2 separate regions of the Homo sapiens genome follow, and region 1 is linked to region 2. Evidence: fine-mapped expression QTL. Tissue or cell type: whole blood. Region 2 holds a variant in brackets; the other region holds the start of a gene. All regions are shown on one strand. Distances are between the middles of the regions.

Evidence for each region. PIP is the estimated chance that this variant, and not a neighbour inherited with it, causes the effect.
Region 1: GK5 starts here. The variant in region 2 is fine-mapped to the expression of GK5 in whole blood (INTERVAL, PIP 0.95).

The regions. Positions count from the first base shown.
Region 1 is chr3:142,221,789-142,229,788 of GRCh38, reverse strand. GK5 (glycerol kinase 5) reads left to right here and starts at 4,204. Exons shown (of 16, transcript NM_001039547.3): 1 at 4,204-4,480. The coding sequence starts at 4,334. RefSeq lists silencers at 4,021-4,260, 4,451-4,670.
Region 2 is chr3:141,992,055-142,000,318 of GRCh38, reverse strand. It overlaps TFDP2 (transcription factor Dp-2), which reads left to right. Exons shown (of 13, transcript NM_001178139.2): 5 at 5,178-5,299; 6 at 6,734-6,781. Among named protein-coding and RNA genes, the nearest start is that of ATP1B3, 120 kb to the right of the region's middle. The variant C/T (reference allele first, on the strand shown) is at 4,643.

The DNA of each region.
Region 1 (8,000 bases), 230 kb before region 2:
TGTATATATATATACCATATTTTCTTTATTCACCCATTAGTTGATGGGCACTTAGGTTGGTTCCATATCTTTGCAATTGTGAATTGTGCCATAATAAATATATTTGTGTAGGTGTATTTTTCATATAATGACTTATTTTCTTTTGGGTAGATACCCAGTAATGGGAATCCTGGATCAAATGGTAGATCTACTTTTAGCTCTTTTAAGGAATCTCCACACTGTTTTTCATAGAGGCTGTACTAATTTACATTCCCAACAGCAGTCTGTGTTCCCCTTTCACCACATTCACACCAACATCGACTATTTTTTGATACAGTCAATTTAGTTGTACATTAAAAATAAGAGTATAATTTGATTGTTTGCAACACAAAGGATAAATGCTTGACATAAAAGATACCCTATTTACCTTGATGTGATTATCATGCCTGTATCAAAATATCTCATGTAACCCAAAAATATATACACCTACTATGTATCCATAAAATTTTTTAAAAATTAAGAAAAAAGAATGACTGACCAGCTATCAAAGGCCTTAGAAGCCTCTGAGCCCTGTGCCTTGTTGCCCATATACTCCTTTCCCTTAGAGAAGAGCAGGGTTAGAGGTGCTGACAGAGAACAAAGCAAGTGGGAGAAACAGGTATCTCTTTGTTCTCCCAGGCCTCTCCTACTCAACAGTGAAATAAGATCTTGATTTTTATCTGAGATCTTTATGTTTGCTTTACCCAACACCCAGCACCTGAAGTTATGTGCAAAATTTTGTGTGTATAAGCATCTTCTTGGGAAGATAGTGTTCATTATGGCCTCAAAGTTGTTCAAGATCTGAAAACAATTTGAGAAACACTAGATTAAGTGGTTTCTAAGGCCCCTGTTTTCAAATTCTATGATTTGATAATACTCAATATAATTTATTTGAATTTATAAAAAGGATCATTAAGGAAGTGTCAGGTTTCAAGAAGCCAAGAAATATCACTTTGAGAAATATACTAAATATTAACATCAGGTAATACAAAGCCGTTTTCTCTGTTGTGAATGGGGAACTGATATGGTTACTATTATGTGTGAACTTGGCTAGGCTAGTTAGACACACTGTATGCCCAGCTGTTCGGTCAAACACCAGTCTAGGTGTTGTTGTGAAGGTATTTCTTAGAAATAATTAACATTTAAATTAGTAGACTTTGAGTAAAGCAGATCACCCTTCATAACCTGGGTGAGTCTCATACAATTGGTTTTAAGCTTTAAGAACAAAGACAGGTTTCCCAAAGAAGGAAGTCTCCTCAAAACTGCAACATGGAAACTCTTCTTGAGTTTCCAGCCTGCTAGCCTGCCCCACAAATATCCAGGACTTGCCAGCCCTCACAATCACATGAAGCAATTCCTGAAAATAATAAACCTCTCTTTCTCTTTCTCTCTATCCTATTGTTTCTATTTCTCTGTAGAACCCTGACAAGTACTGGACCCATTAGTCATTTATTTCGAATTACAATAATTCACACACACACACGACCAAAATGGCCAGCACTGGTGAAGGCAGTCAGTCCTTGAGGCCACTTGGAACAAATCAGTACTGTTGAACAGGGTACAAAGAAAAAAAACATACTCTTCCAGGTGTATGTTCCAAGCTTCACGTTGTATGGCCAAAGAGCCAATTTTGTCAAATTGTCTGAAAGCAAGTTGATTAACACGACAATTTGGTCAAAAGAATGACTTGGCCCTGTGCAGTGGCTCACGCTTGTAATCCCAGCACTTTGGGAGGCCGTGGCGGGCGGATCACGAGGTCAGGAGATCCAGACCATCCTGGCTAACATGGTGAAACCCCGTCTCTACTAAAAATACAAAAATTAGCTGGGCATGGTGGAGAGGGCCTGTAGTCCCAGCAACTTGGGAGACTGAGGCAGGAGAATCGCTTGAATCCGGGAGGCGGAGGTTGCAGTGAGCCGAGATCGCAGCACTGCACTCCAGCCTGGGCAAACAAGGGCAAAACTCCGTCTCAAAAAAGAAAAAAAAAAAAAAAGAATGATTTGGCTGGGCACAATGGCTCACACCCATAATCCCAGCACTTTGGGAGACAAAGGTGGGAGGATCACTTGAGGCCAGGAGCTCAAGACCAGCCTGGCCAATATGGCGAAACAGAGTCTCTACAAAAAAATGCAAAAATTAGGCGGGCGTGGTGGTTGTAGTCCCAGCTACATGGGAGGCTAAGGCAGTTGGATCGCCTGAGCCCGGGAGGTCGAGGCTGCAGTGAGCTGAGATGGCACCACAGCACTCCAGCCTGGGCGACAGAGCAAGACCCTGTCTAAAAAAAGTTTTGATTCAAAATGAGTATGTATGTATGTATGTATGTAAGTATGTATGTATGTATGTATGTATGTATGTATGTATGTATGTATGTATTTTGAGGCAGAGTCTTGCTCTGTCGCCCAGGCTGGAGTGCAGTGGCATGATCTCGGCTCACTGCAACCTCCGCCTCCCGGCTTCAAGTAATTCTCCTGCCTCAGCCTCCCCCGTAGCTGGGATTGCAGGAGCCCGCTACCACGCCCGGCTAAGTTTTGTATTTTTGTAGAGACGGGGTTTCACCATGTTGCCCAGGCTGCTCTCAAACTCCTGACCTCAAGTGATCCGCCCGCCTCGGCCTCCGAAAGTGCTGGGATTACAGTCGTGAGCCCCCGCGCCCAGCCAAAATGATTATCTTTTACCTTTTAATTGACATACCAGTTGGCACTGTTAAACGTTTTCACACAAAACATATATTCATATGTTTGCTAATTTTACAAAAAGAAGATAAGGAATATTTTCAGGCCCCGGCTTCACAGATTGCTGGTGGCAGTGGAGAGGTGGGTGGCGCAGGTGGAACCACCTCCCCACTACTTGCAGATCAGGACCCTCCCCGGGAAAGCTCCAGGCCCAGGAACCTAAGCCGCAAGAATCTCGAAATTTCCACAGGACACCTTGTTCCTTTTGGCCAAGTGTCTGGATGAGCCCATCCCCTTGGGCAGCAACAAAAGGTAAAGGGTCTCTGTGAGGCTTTCAGATTCCAAAAAAAAGCAACCGCTGGAGTGGAGTGTGATGGTCAAAGCAGCCACCTTAAGCTTTCTCCTTTCTTTCCCACTAGAGGGCTGAGAAAAGTCTTCTTCCTTGCGTTGTATTTCATTTGGCAAATATTTACCGCTTTGTATTGTGTGCAAACTTTACCAGGTTTTCTGGGAAGAGAAGTCGTGGGGAGCTCTCAGTTTGTTAATAAATATTAATACTTTTGGCCAAATTTTGAATTTTTTATGTCACTTGTTTTATTTCATTTTTGAAAAACAGCACTTTATTTCATTTAACTCTAGCATATTCAATGGCTGTGCATTTAATAATACTGAAATAAAGTCGCACCCAAAATGTTAGCAAAAAAATGGAAACTATATATGGTAGTGACCTCTACAAATGTTTTAAGCTTGAAAAATTCTGCACGAACGCAGACACAGGTTAGTCTGCCAAAGTTACTCAGATAAAAATTTCTCCAACCCTCAAGTCATAATCATAGTTGAGAAATGAATAAATGTGCCTTATGGCACCTCCAAACTTTTTGAGATTTTTATATAAACTAGCCTATACTTCTCTCCTTACGATTAGCATATGGGGTAGCTATTTTTCTTTAACAGAGATTCTTCAAATGTAGCTAGGGTTAAGAGAAACGCTGGCGCTGCCTCTCAGGAAGCTGGAGAAGCAAAAGAAAAAATTAAGAGTTAAGGGCCGCCGGGCTCGGTGGCTCACGCCTGCAATCGCAGCAATTTGGGAAGCCGAGGCGAGCGGATCACGAGATCAGGAGATCGAGACCAGCCTGATCAACATGGTGAAACCCCTTCTCTACTAAAAATACAAAAATAGCCGGGCGTGGTGGAGCGCGCCTGTAATCCCAGCTACTCGGGAGGCTGAGGCAAGAGAATCGCTTGAACCCGGGAGGCGGAGGTTGCAGTGAGCCGAGATCGCGCCACCGCACTCCAGCCGGGGCGACAGAGTGAGACTCCGTCTCAAAAAGAAAAAAAACAAGAGTTAAGGGCCAAGTCAATCCAACCGCGGCCGGCGACTGGAGGCTGAGCATGGCTGGCGATCTGGGGCTGCAGATCACGGCGCAAACCCGCTCACCTCCACCCCTCCCGCGCGGCCGCCGGCGCGCGCCCGTGGCGTCACGGCGTCGGGGTGGAGCCGGCGGCAGGGGCCAGGCCTCTCTAGGCTCTCCGGCTGAGCCGGGTTGGGGCCCGGGTTGGGCCGCCCGGGGACTCTGGAGCATTGGGATTTGTAGCGCGCCCTCTGGGTAGGCGGCTGTAGCGGAGAGGCGTGCGGGATCGGGATGTCGGGGCTGCTCACGGACCCGGAGCAGAGAGCGCAGGAGCCGCGGTACCCCGGCTTCGTGCTGGGGCTGGATGTGGGCAGTTCTGTGATCCGCTGCCACGTCTATGACCGGGCGGCGCGGGTCTGCGGCTCCAGCGTGCAGAAGGTGACTTGGGGGCGGGCGTGGGGCGCGGGTCTGACTGGGTTTCGCTGAGTCCCGGGGTCCGGCCTCGGGAGGCGAGCGGGCAGGCCCCACCTACCGCCCTGGACGCGGCCACCTGCAGCACCCGCGGGCCCTGGGGCCAGAACGGCGCGCCCAGACCGGCTGAGTCTTCGCGTTCCCTCCCTCGTCTGGGCTGAATCCCGCGCGCCCTTCCTGTCCAGGCTGAGGGTGCCAGGGGCCCGGTGTATGACCTGGGCCGCTCGCTTGCCTCTTGCCACCTGGGGAGCCACCTGTCCGGCCTTACCTGGATGGGACTGAGGTGACTCGCCGGACGGGACTGGGCAGGCTGTGCACATCCAGCCAGAGGGTGGTTTGTGAGTTGCTTGGTTCTTCCTGCACTTCCCTGATAGATCTCCCACCACATCTTTATTTACATTTTAATTTTTCAAAACTTTTTTTCTTTTTTCTTTATTATAGCCTTTGGACTTGTGCCTCAATAACTTTTCATATCTTTGTAGAATTTAAGTTTATTCTCTATTCTTCACTTGTCATCTTTATTAACTACTACTCCACAAAATGCTGGTTCCTTACGTGAGCAACTGATTGCCGTGGATATTAGAGGTATTGGGCAAGTTTTGAAGGCTGTGTGGTCATCAGTTTTCTATTTTCCATCTTTGAGAATTCATAAAATTCTTTATTTCCCCTCGTTTGAGAGACCTGCCAAATCATTGGTTGGTTGTTAGTAAAGCCTTGAATTGTTGATAATATTGGTCAGCAACCAACAAATTGATATCCTTCTGTTCTCATATTAATGAAGTGTTGATTTATACACAATTGTCAATGCACCAAAAATAATATTTATTTGTTATGGTGTTCTTATTGTTGTTCCTTTTTTTCTTTTGAGACAGGGTCTCACTTTGTCACCCAGGCTGGAGTGCAGTGCTGTGATCTCGGCTCACTGCAGCTTTGACCTCCTGGGCTCAAGTGATCCTTCCACCTCAGCCCCCCAAGTAGCTGGGACTACAGGCAAGGGGCCACCATGCCTGGCTAAATTTGTTTGTATTTTTTAATAGAGATGGGATTTTGCCATGTTGCCCAGGCTGGTCTGGAAATTCCTGGGCTCAAATAATTCACCCGCCTCGGCCTCCCTAAGTGCCAAGATTACAGGCGTGAGCCACTGCAGCCAGCCTGTTATGGTGTTCTTATTTTCTCTTCCCAGTACCAACATCTTTTTATGTTAGAAATTTGAGGGAGGGCCGGAGCCATCAGTTACCTAACCATTCCCAGCAGCACTGTATTCCCCCTTTTTCTCAGTGTCCCGTTCTTCTTCCCACCACCTTAGAGGTGTTTTTCTTTGTAGCACTTGCCCAGGAGCAAGGTCCAGCTAGAGTGCCAGTGAGTAGTGACTGCTTTGAGCATTTGTTCTGGGGAAACATCAGACTTCCTTCCATTAAGTTTTTCTTTTTTTTCTTTTTAGACGGAGTCTCGCTCTGTCACCCAGGCTGGAGTGCAATGGCATGATCTCGGCTCACTGCAACCTCTGCCTCCTAGGTTCAAGCAAGTCTCCTGCCTCAGCCTCCTGAGTAGCTGGGATTGCAGGCACCCGCCATCATGCCTGGCTAATTTTTGTATTTTTGTAGAGACAGGGTTTCGCCATGTTGGCCAGGCTGGTCTTGAACTCTTGACCTCAGGTGAACCGCCTGCCTCAGCCTCCCAGAGCACTGGGATTATAGGCGTGTGCCACTGTGCCCGGCCTCCATTCAGGTTTCAGGACCAAGACAGTGGAACTGGGATTGTAGCAGCTCCCTGGTCCCTTCTCTGGCTAGCTGTGTGGGAACACTGCCCACCCACCCACACACTATCCCTATCCCAGCCTGAAAAGAAAAATGAAAGGCAGACACCACCCTTCAGTGACTGGGTACTCATTACCTTTCTAAGAGTATTTATCACAAAAACGATACTTTTTAAAGTCTCCCTTATAATTCTAGACACAAAGTACTTTTAAGCACTGTTTTTTTGTTTGTTTTTGTTTTTCTTTTAAGGAATTGAAATATTTGGAACCAAAGGGAGAAATGAATTACTAGAAAATGCAAAGTTTCACAGTTAATATATAATTTGGGGCAGATCATTAGTTTTTTTAGGAATGAAGTGAGGAATCTCAAAGATGGATCAAGATTGCTGTGAGTGGCAGGAGGCCAGGAAGATTTGCACAGACTCTAAACTGTGGAAAATGTGTCTGGATAAAAGAAAGATATGAGTAAATAAAAATACAAAAAAAATGCCTGCTCTTCCCGGATAAAGCACAGTCGTAGATTAAGAAATGTGCAGCAATGCCTCTCTGTGTGGTAGGAGTTTATAGCAGTACTGCTTAAAGTGTAGTTACGGGGCTGCTGGGATTGAGATAATAAAAGAAAACTAAGCATTTAGAAACTTGTGTAGCAACTTAGCAGAATAATTTTATGTCTATTGACTCTAGTAATGAAACGTTTGGGATTTTATTTTGTATGCCTTTTTTTTCTGGAAACTTTATAAAAATTATTGTTATTTTTAGAGACAGATTCTAACTCTGTCCCCCAGGTGGCCTGATCACAGTTCACTGCAACCTTGAACTCCTGGGCTCAAGCAATCCTCCTGCCTCAGCTTCCTAAAGCTCTGGGATTACAGGCACGAGTTACTGCACTAGGACTAGAAACTTAATTGTATCTTAAAAATTGCTGGTCCACAATGAATATAATTTTTTTTTTTTTTGAGATGGAGTCTCGCTCTGTCGCCCAGGCTGGAGTGCAGTGACTGATCTCGATTCACTGCAAGCTCCGCCTCCCGGCTTCATGCTATTCTCCTGCCTCAGCCTCCTGAGTAGCTGGGACTACAGGCGCCCGCCACCAAGCCTGGCTAATTTTTTGTATTTTTCATAGACATGGGGTTTCACCGTGTTAGCCAGGGTGGTCTCGATATCCTGACCTGGTGATCCACCCGCCTCGGCCTCCCAAAGTGCTGGGATTACAGGCATGAGCCACTGCGCCTGGCCAATGAATAGAAATTTTTTAAAAAAACAATTAGCAACTGGTCCTTTACTGCAGATAATTTGAGTTTTTTGGGAACAAGGATCTTGTTGGTCTACATTGCTGCTTAGTACCTGGTTTATTACCTCATTGTTACAGAATAAATAATTGAATTGCAGTTAAAATGTTAGGAATTCATGGGGCTCTATGACTTAGACACAGAACTTGATTGTGTTTATTCTGTCAAGTGAAAATTACACCTCTTGTAATATTCCAATGGAAAGAATGTATAATAGAAACCTAAAACCTCTTAGTGTATGATTTGATTATACTGGGAAAGAAATTTTTAAAAAAGAAAAAATAAAGAGATTCCCCTTTGTAGACAAGAACAAAATAGGCTGTGAGAAGACGTCAATCTTACTTCTTGTGGCCTTTATTTTTTAAATGTTTAACAGTAGAGATACATTTTTAGCTTTTTTCTGTAATTTGTATTTTTAAAAAATCTTTCTTAGGGACTCTTA
Region 2 (8,264 bases):
TAAACCCTCACCAGGCACTGAATCTGCCGGCACTTTCATTTTGGACCTCTCAGCAACCTCCAGAACAGTGAGCAATAAATTTCTGTGGTTTGTAAATTACCCAGTTTTGTACTCCTTGCAGAAGACTTTAAAGAAAATTAATTAATTACCCAGTCTAAGGTGGTTTGTTATGGTAGCCTGAATGGACTAAGACACCCAGTTACAGCCATTTATCGCTTCTCCTCTAACTCCCTCATCCATGATTTTTAAAAAAGTTTTTGTTTAGTTAAAGAATTCTTGGATTAGGCTGGGCGTGGTGGCTCACGCCTGTAATCCCAGCACTTTGGGAGGCTCAGGCAGGCAGATCACGAGGTCAGGAGATCGAGACCATCCTGGCTAACAAGGTGAAACCCCGTCTCTACTAAAAGTACAAAAAATTAGCCGGGCGTGGTGGCAGGCGCCTGTAGTCCCAGCTACTCAGGAGGCTGAGGCAGGAGAATGGCATGAACCCGGGAGGCGGAGCTTGCAGTGAGCTGAGATCACGCCACTGCACTCCAGCCTAGGCAACAGAGCCAGACTCCGTCTCAAAAAAAAAAAAAAAAGGAATTCTTGCATTACAAACTCACCCATTTGCTTCTTAGCCTTCTTTTTGTGCTTGCCCTTTGAACTTTACATGTCTTTTGGAAGCCAAATCTTAATGGTAGATAGAAATTTCAAAAGGCCCCATGAAAAGTTTTGTGTGGTTATGGAAACTAGTTTAGCAGTACCTATTTTAGTTTGAGATACTTGCCCTTTTCTTACAGGCTGTCTTATGGTTATATGTTATAGATCTTAAGATTATTTATACAGTTGACCTTTGACCAATGCAAGGGATAAGGGCACAGCCCCTGTGCAGTCACAAATCCATGGGTAGCTTTTGACTCCCCCAAAATGTAACTATTAATACCTTATTATTGACTAGAAGCCTTACTATAACATAAATAATCAAATAACACATTTTATGTTATATTAATGTTATTTCATATGTTAATATGTATTGTATACTGTATTCTTACAATAAAGTAACCTAGGGAAAAATATTACAAAGAAAATCATTAGGAAAATACATTTATAATTCATTAAATGGAAGTGGATTATCATAAAAGTCTTCATCCTCGACGTCTTCACGTTGAGCAGGCTGCGGAGGAGAAAGAGGGAGGAGTTGGTCTGGCTGTCTCAAGGGTGGCAGAAGTGGAAGAAAATCCATGTATAAGTGGACCTGCCCAGTTCAAGCCCATGTTGTTCAAGGGTCAACTGTATAAGATAATCTAATGGCTGTCTTATTTTAGAAGAGTAAAAACTGCATGCTTCTTATAGTGAAAACCAAAATTCCATCAAATAGTGAAATCTCTTAATATACCACTTTATAATTTTGTAATTTTTTTTCCCTTTAGAATACATATGCTGTCTTGGCTTTTTTTAACTGTAGATGGCAGTAGCACATAAAATATGTTGATTGAGGGCAGGAAAATGTTCAGAGTAATGTTCAATTGCTATGTGATTTTCCCAGAGTAACTAATTCTATTGTCAGAGAAACCACATGATAACATTTAAGTTAAGGATGTCTGGATTTTTGGTAGGAGGACTCTGAAATTTAAAACTCCATTTTCCTTAGCATATCAAGTGAATATTAAAAGTATATTTTTACCTCCAACTTCAGTACTTCAAATTTTTTTTCTTTTTTGACAGAGTCTCGCTCTGTCACCTAGGCTGGAGAGTGTAGTGGCACGATCTCAGCTCACTGCAGCCTCCGCTTCCCAGGTTCAAGTGATTCTTCTGCCTCAGCCTCCTGAGTAGCTGGGATTACCGGCGTGCACCACAACACCCAGCTGATTTTTTTTGTATTTTTGGTAGATATGGGGTTTCACCATGTTGGCCAGGCTGGTCTCGAACTCCCTACCTCAAATGGGAGCCTACCTCACCTGCCTTAGGCTCCCAAAGTGCGGGGATTATAGGAGTGAGCCACTGTGCCTGGCCTGGGATTTCAAAATTAAGGTTCAGGGTTAGAAAGCATGACCGGCTCATCACCCTATAAACCAATTTTCTTATATTCTGTGGCTGTTCAAGTCTTACCGACTTTCCTTCTGTTTTATTTCTTACGTTTCACTCTCATTATCCTAGTTTAGGAACTTACTGTATCTCACATACTCTTAGGCCTTATCTTTCCTATTCAGGTGCGTCATCTCTCTAATTTGTTCATGTAGGAAATGTTTATTAAGGAATTGCTATGTACCAGGCCCTGTGCTAAGAGAAAGGAGCAGAGTGTTGCTAATCACTCTCCGATCAGCCGCAGCTAACAATCTGACAATGAGGGAGGGAAAAAAAGAAAATGTAAACTAGAATTCACTTTCAAAGTCATTTTCATAAAGATAGCCAGTTTTTCTCTATGTCCTCTTTCCCTTCCTTCTCTCTTTTTTTCCTTTCTTTCTCTTTTTTTTTTTTTTTTTTTTTGAGATGGAGTCTCACTCTGTCGCCCAGGCTGGAGTGCAGTGGCATGATCTCTGCTTACTGTAACCTCTGCCTCCTGGGTTCAAGTGATTGTCCTGCCTCAGCCTTCCAGGTAGCTGAGATTATAGGTGCCCACCCCCACGCCCAGCTAATTTTTGTATTTTTAGGAGAGTTAGGGTTTCACCATATTGGCCAGGCTGATCTTGAACTCCTGGCCTCAAATGATCCGCCTGCCTTTGCCTCTCAAAGTGCTAGGATTACAGGCATGAGCCACCATGCCCAGCTCCTTTTTTTTTTCTACAAAGTCCTGTAAATCAGCAAAACCAAGCATGTAGGCTGCTAATACCATATAGAAATACTGCAGTAGTAATACAATCTGTTTCAAGGGTAAATTGGAATGCTTAGAATAGCTTTGTAGACACTGCTGTTCAAGGAATAGGGTTGACCAGAGGCTAATCAAATAACTCACATTTTTCTTTATAAGTTGTCCATCCAAGGTCAGCATGATAGAGAATGTGATGTAGTGATTGGTGGAAACTATGCTGTATTTTTTTAGTGGATTTTATATAAACCTTTTAGCATATCAATAAATGAAGTTACTTTTTCCCCTATTATTTTAAAAATTGAGTATTTTATCCCAGTTAGTAAATATTTATTGTACCTTTCCTATGAGCATCCCCTACCACTGTGTTAAACCCTGCAAAGGACATAGTTTAGCAAGGTACTCGCCACCCCTAAAGATCCTGCACTGAAATGGGGGATGCACTGAAAGTGGGGATGTGGGACCAGATGTGTGGAGTGGGAAGTGCAAGCATACTTGGAATGCAAGGCAGAATTTGATGAGAGGTACAGACACATTGTCTGTTTTTATGTTTTCTCATGAGGCAAACTTCTGAGTGCCTTATTTAATACCCTTGGTGTATTGTACATAATCAGAACTCTCCAGACATCTGTCAGTATTATTAACTTTTGTTTTTATTTTTTTAAACTATGGAATGAACGGATTGAAACTATTTCATAAACATTTCTAGGTGCTAACATCTTCCTAGCCCCAAGCTAACATAGTCAAACATAAACAGACTCTAACTAAGGTCTTAAATACTTGGTAAATGAATAAATGTTGACTAGACTTTAATAACTAGGTCTGAACTATTTTTATGCTTCAGAGGTTATTGTTTGACTCTTTCCTTCAAATGCAAATAAAGAGCTTGAAATGCTTATTAATCCTTCCCTTCAGTTATGTATGGAGCAAGTTAGCAATGAACTTAATGATTCACCCTGGCTGCAGAAACATGTTTCATTTGGTCAGGGAGATAAAAATTAATTAGCATTTTGTCTTGCATAAGGCAGTAGAAATAGAACTATTTCTCTTGTTTGAGGACTTATTAACAATTACTTGTAGTCCCTGTAGATATTTTTCATTCTCAGTTGGGACTTAAAACTTACTATCATGAACACTTTCAAAACTTTACAAAAATAGAACTATATACCCAGCAGTTGCTTCAACAATTATCCACATAGGGGCCAATCATGTTTCATTAATATCCCCATTCACCGGAGCATGCCTCTTCCCCTTTTTTTACATGAAAATACTTCTAAAGCTATTACTAGGCTGCTAGTTTTTTTGTATTAATTATTATAAATGTCTTTGGGAAAAACATGTTTTGTTTTGTAACCAGTGAAAATTTTAAGACCTGGTAACACATATAAGGTACCTTTCTAAAAAAGTCTTTAGGGGTTCCATTAATCCCCTTTCTGGAGTCTAGCCTTAGGAAATAGAAATTAAGGGCAAGGTCTTTGTACAAAAATGTTTATCACAGCATTCTTTATAATAGTGAATAATTAAAAATGCATATATATCTAATAGAGAATAATAAATCCACATGGTAGAATGTTTTATGGTCTTTAAACTATCTTCAAAGAGTATTTAATAACATGAATACTCTTTTTTTTTTTTTTTTTTTTTTTTGAAATGGAGTTTTGCTCTTTTTGCCCAGGCTGGAGTGCAGTGGCGTGATCTCAACTCACTGCAACTTCCACCTTCCAGGTTCAAGCGATTCTCCTGCCTCAGCCTCCCATGTAGCTGGGATTACAGGCGCACAGCACCATACCTGGCTAATTTTATATTTTTAATAGAGATAGGTTTTCACCATGTTGGCCAGGCTGGTCTTGAACT[C/T]GTGACCTCAGGTGATCCTCCCACCTCGGCCTCCCAAATGCTGGGTTTACAGGCACGAGCCACCGCTCCTGGTCCAATACTCTTTTAAAAAAGGATAAAATTGCATCTATATAATAATCCAAGCTGGATAGTATCTTTGTGTATACTGTATGATGGACTGTGGAAGTGTGATTTGCTGTTGCCCTGGTTCTAGTAAATCAAGCTGTACTGCAATTCATTTCCTCAGTTTCAAAGAAAGCTTTTCATTTTTCTGATTTTTAAAGCATTATCAGTTCTCTACTTAATCCTTCCAAATTGCCATTTATTTGCTGAAACCTGCATTGTGACCTCATGTCAGTATTCAGGATACTTGTGCTTTAAGATCCTAGGATATAAGTAAATCAAAGGCATTGCTTATATTTTTAGATGACTGACATTAAGTGCCTTTTAGGCAGCAAGGTTTCCTCATATGTAGGTTAGCAATCAATGTTATTTTCTGCCTGTAGGCTTTTCTTAATAATTAAGAATATTATATTCTTTGTTCCTAACTTTACAGATTATAAGCACACCACAGAGACTAACCAGTTCAGGAAGTGTTCTGATTGGGAGTCCATATACCCCTGCACCAGCAATGGTTACTCAGACACACATAGCAGAAGCTACTGGCTGGGTCCCTGGGTAAGAGTGTTGCAAGTTACTATTTTTAAAACCTTAAAAAAAGTTTAGACATTTTTTTCTTACTATCTTGTCTTCTGTTCTTGTTTTAGTTTAGTTCTTAAAAACAAATGTTTTTCCTTTAAAATCACCTATTTTATTTCACTTTATATCTTAGATATAAATAATCTCTGGAATAACTATTTTTAAACAGAAAAAAACAGTGCAATAACTCATAACTAAACCCTGTGACTTTTTAAACTCTGGAATAGGACTACTTTTATTATTATAATATTTAACTGCTTTGGAGATATAAAAACTATATTTTTATATATTTTTAACTCACACAGAAAAGGAGTTAAATATTAAGTGTTGGCTATACTCAGAATTTCCCCTATGAATTACTTCCATAAAGACCAGAAAAGGGTAGGAAAAGAGGCCAGATAAATTTTTTATTAAATTTCCTCTTCTTTTTAAACGCTGAACAATTGAATCAATATCCCTTCTGTTACTAATTTGTCACTTTTAGTACAAACTTCTATATGTTTCATCTTTGCATGTAAAATACTTATACCTTTCTCCACTCTTTATCATTTTAGTACCTCATACTTCCATAAAAGAAAAATAAGTAAGATAAATTACTCAAAACCTCATTTTGTTACCTTAGACGTTTTGTTACTTTAGAAGTTATTTACATGGTGGAATACTGCATTGGTGATTCTGTCATATGTGAGTTTGAGCAAGCAGATGGTAAGTCTTAGTTAAGTAAGAATCTCCTTGCTTCAAGGATATTAAGTGAATTAATAATCCTGGCAAAGTGCTTTAATATGCATACATATTAATATACATAAATACATGCCTACACACATGTACAAACACAAATACATTAAAGACAGAAGAGTTTTGTATATGCATACTTTTCCATTATCAAATGAGCTGAAATGACAGAATTACCTGGAATCCTATGGGTGTTATTCAATCCTTATGAACATTCTTATGTAGATCAAAGGTTACCCTGGATTTCTCTATAGCCTTGAAAGATTATAACGTGAAAGCCAAGCCTGTGCCAGCAGTGCTGGCCCACTTTGGAAATGACCAGGGTCTGGATGTTTTCAGCCCCATTTGTGCTTTATATTGGAGGTGGCAGGATTGTCTGGTGTTTTTATAGTCAGTATTTCGCAGAGTGAAGAAAATTTTTCTCTATCTTGTTTGCAAGTCTGCAGTGTTTTCCTCTCTAGCTAGTCATTGAGCTCTTTTCAACTTATGATTATTAAGTTGTGATACCTTGTTCACATGATAAAATTAAGATTTATTTTATGTACCTATCTTTTGTATTTGCTAGTTTTAGTCTTTGAATATATTCAGTGTATAATTTTAGACAAGTTATAATAAAGTATTAATGAAATTAAATTGTATTTAAGTATGTATTGTTTTTATGCTATCTTTTTTCCTTTTTAGTGATAGAAAACGGGCTAGAAAATTTATAGACTCTGATTTTTCAGAAAGGTGAGTATAAGTCTAACTATTTTGTTTGGAAGATTTGGCTATATAGAGAGGCTGTTGGCATTGCCACTGCTCTGGTTTAATGCGATGTTTTTCTTCATGTAACTTTAACTTCTTTCAGTTCTTGCCATTATTTCATTCTGCATTGAGTGCCCCAGTTCACTCATAGTATCTGTATGGTTTCAGTAGAAATTACCCTGTGAGCAGATTGACTATTGGTAGTATGTCCTTTAGTCTCTCCTCTCTTTCCATCTGGTAAATGAAGAGTTCTATCAAAGTGAATACTCCACATTACCCTAACATGCCCAAAGTTTAACAATTTTTTCTTTTTTCTTTTTTTTGAGATGAAGTCTTGCTCTGTCACCCAGGCTGGAGTGCAGTGGCGTTATCTTGGCTCACTGCAACCTCTGCCTCCCGGGTTCAAGCAATTCTCCTGCCTCAGCCTCCCAAAGTGCTGGGATTACAGGCATGAGCCACCACACCCGGCTAAGTTTTTCTTAAAACATTTATAAATCATAACAAACTTGCTTCTTTCTTAAGCAATATGTTGGGCATAAGGAAAGTTCATGTTATCTTAGAATATTAGGACAGTGGCTTCTCCATTCTGGCTGTGCATCAGAATCACTTGTAGTCTGTTAAGTAAAAAATAAATGCCTGCCATGTCAGAAACTCCTACATTTTCTAATTTGCTATCTCTGATTTGCTGTGCCCTGAGAAATTAGATGGCCAAATATGTTAGAATTCAGTCTAAAATGAAAGTGACTAGGTTCTGAGTGAGAACCATGGGAATATGTATAAAGGATGTGTGTTTTCTTGCCCTGACACTAGTGCTGTTTCAGTTCCTTGGTGGCTTTTGTTGTTTGCTTCTTGGTGCTAATCGTTTTCAACAGATACAATCACTTCTGAGGAGCTGCTGTATCATAGAAATGAAATGTTCTTTACTCTCTAACAGAAAGTCCTCTTTCCAACTCAAACTGGTCTTTACTGGTGTTTATCCTTCGAAAGGGCAACAGAACAAGTTCTTGCAGAGGTATTTAGCAATGTTTAAGGCCTTAAAATGGAACTATTTGTCAGTTATGATTGGTGGCACCTCTGCACTGCAAACAGTACAAAAACCAAGATTCTCTTTATTCTCCTTTGTAAGTAAGAATTCTAAAGATCTATAAGTGAGAACACATAAAAGTGTTAGGTTAAATTTATAGTGTAGCCATTGGTTCAACTTTCTCTTTCTACATTTGGTTCAGTGGCTTTTTTTCCTAGCATTTTTTTTTTATCATTTTTTAAAAAGTTTTGAATATAACTTTTCTGTAATGTATCCCCACCACCCGTCTGTCAAACCACGAAGATTGCTACATGTATTTTTCTTTATTCCTTGTTCTAAATAAGATTTAGCACAGTGGTGTTTCATTTTTTTCTTTATGCTTTTTTTTTCTTCTTTCTTTCTTTCCTTCCTTCCTTCCTTCTTTCTTTCTTTCTTTTCTTTCTT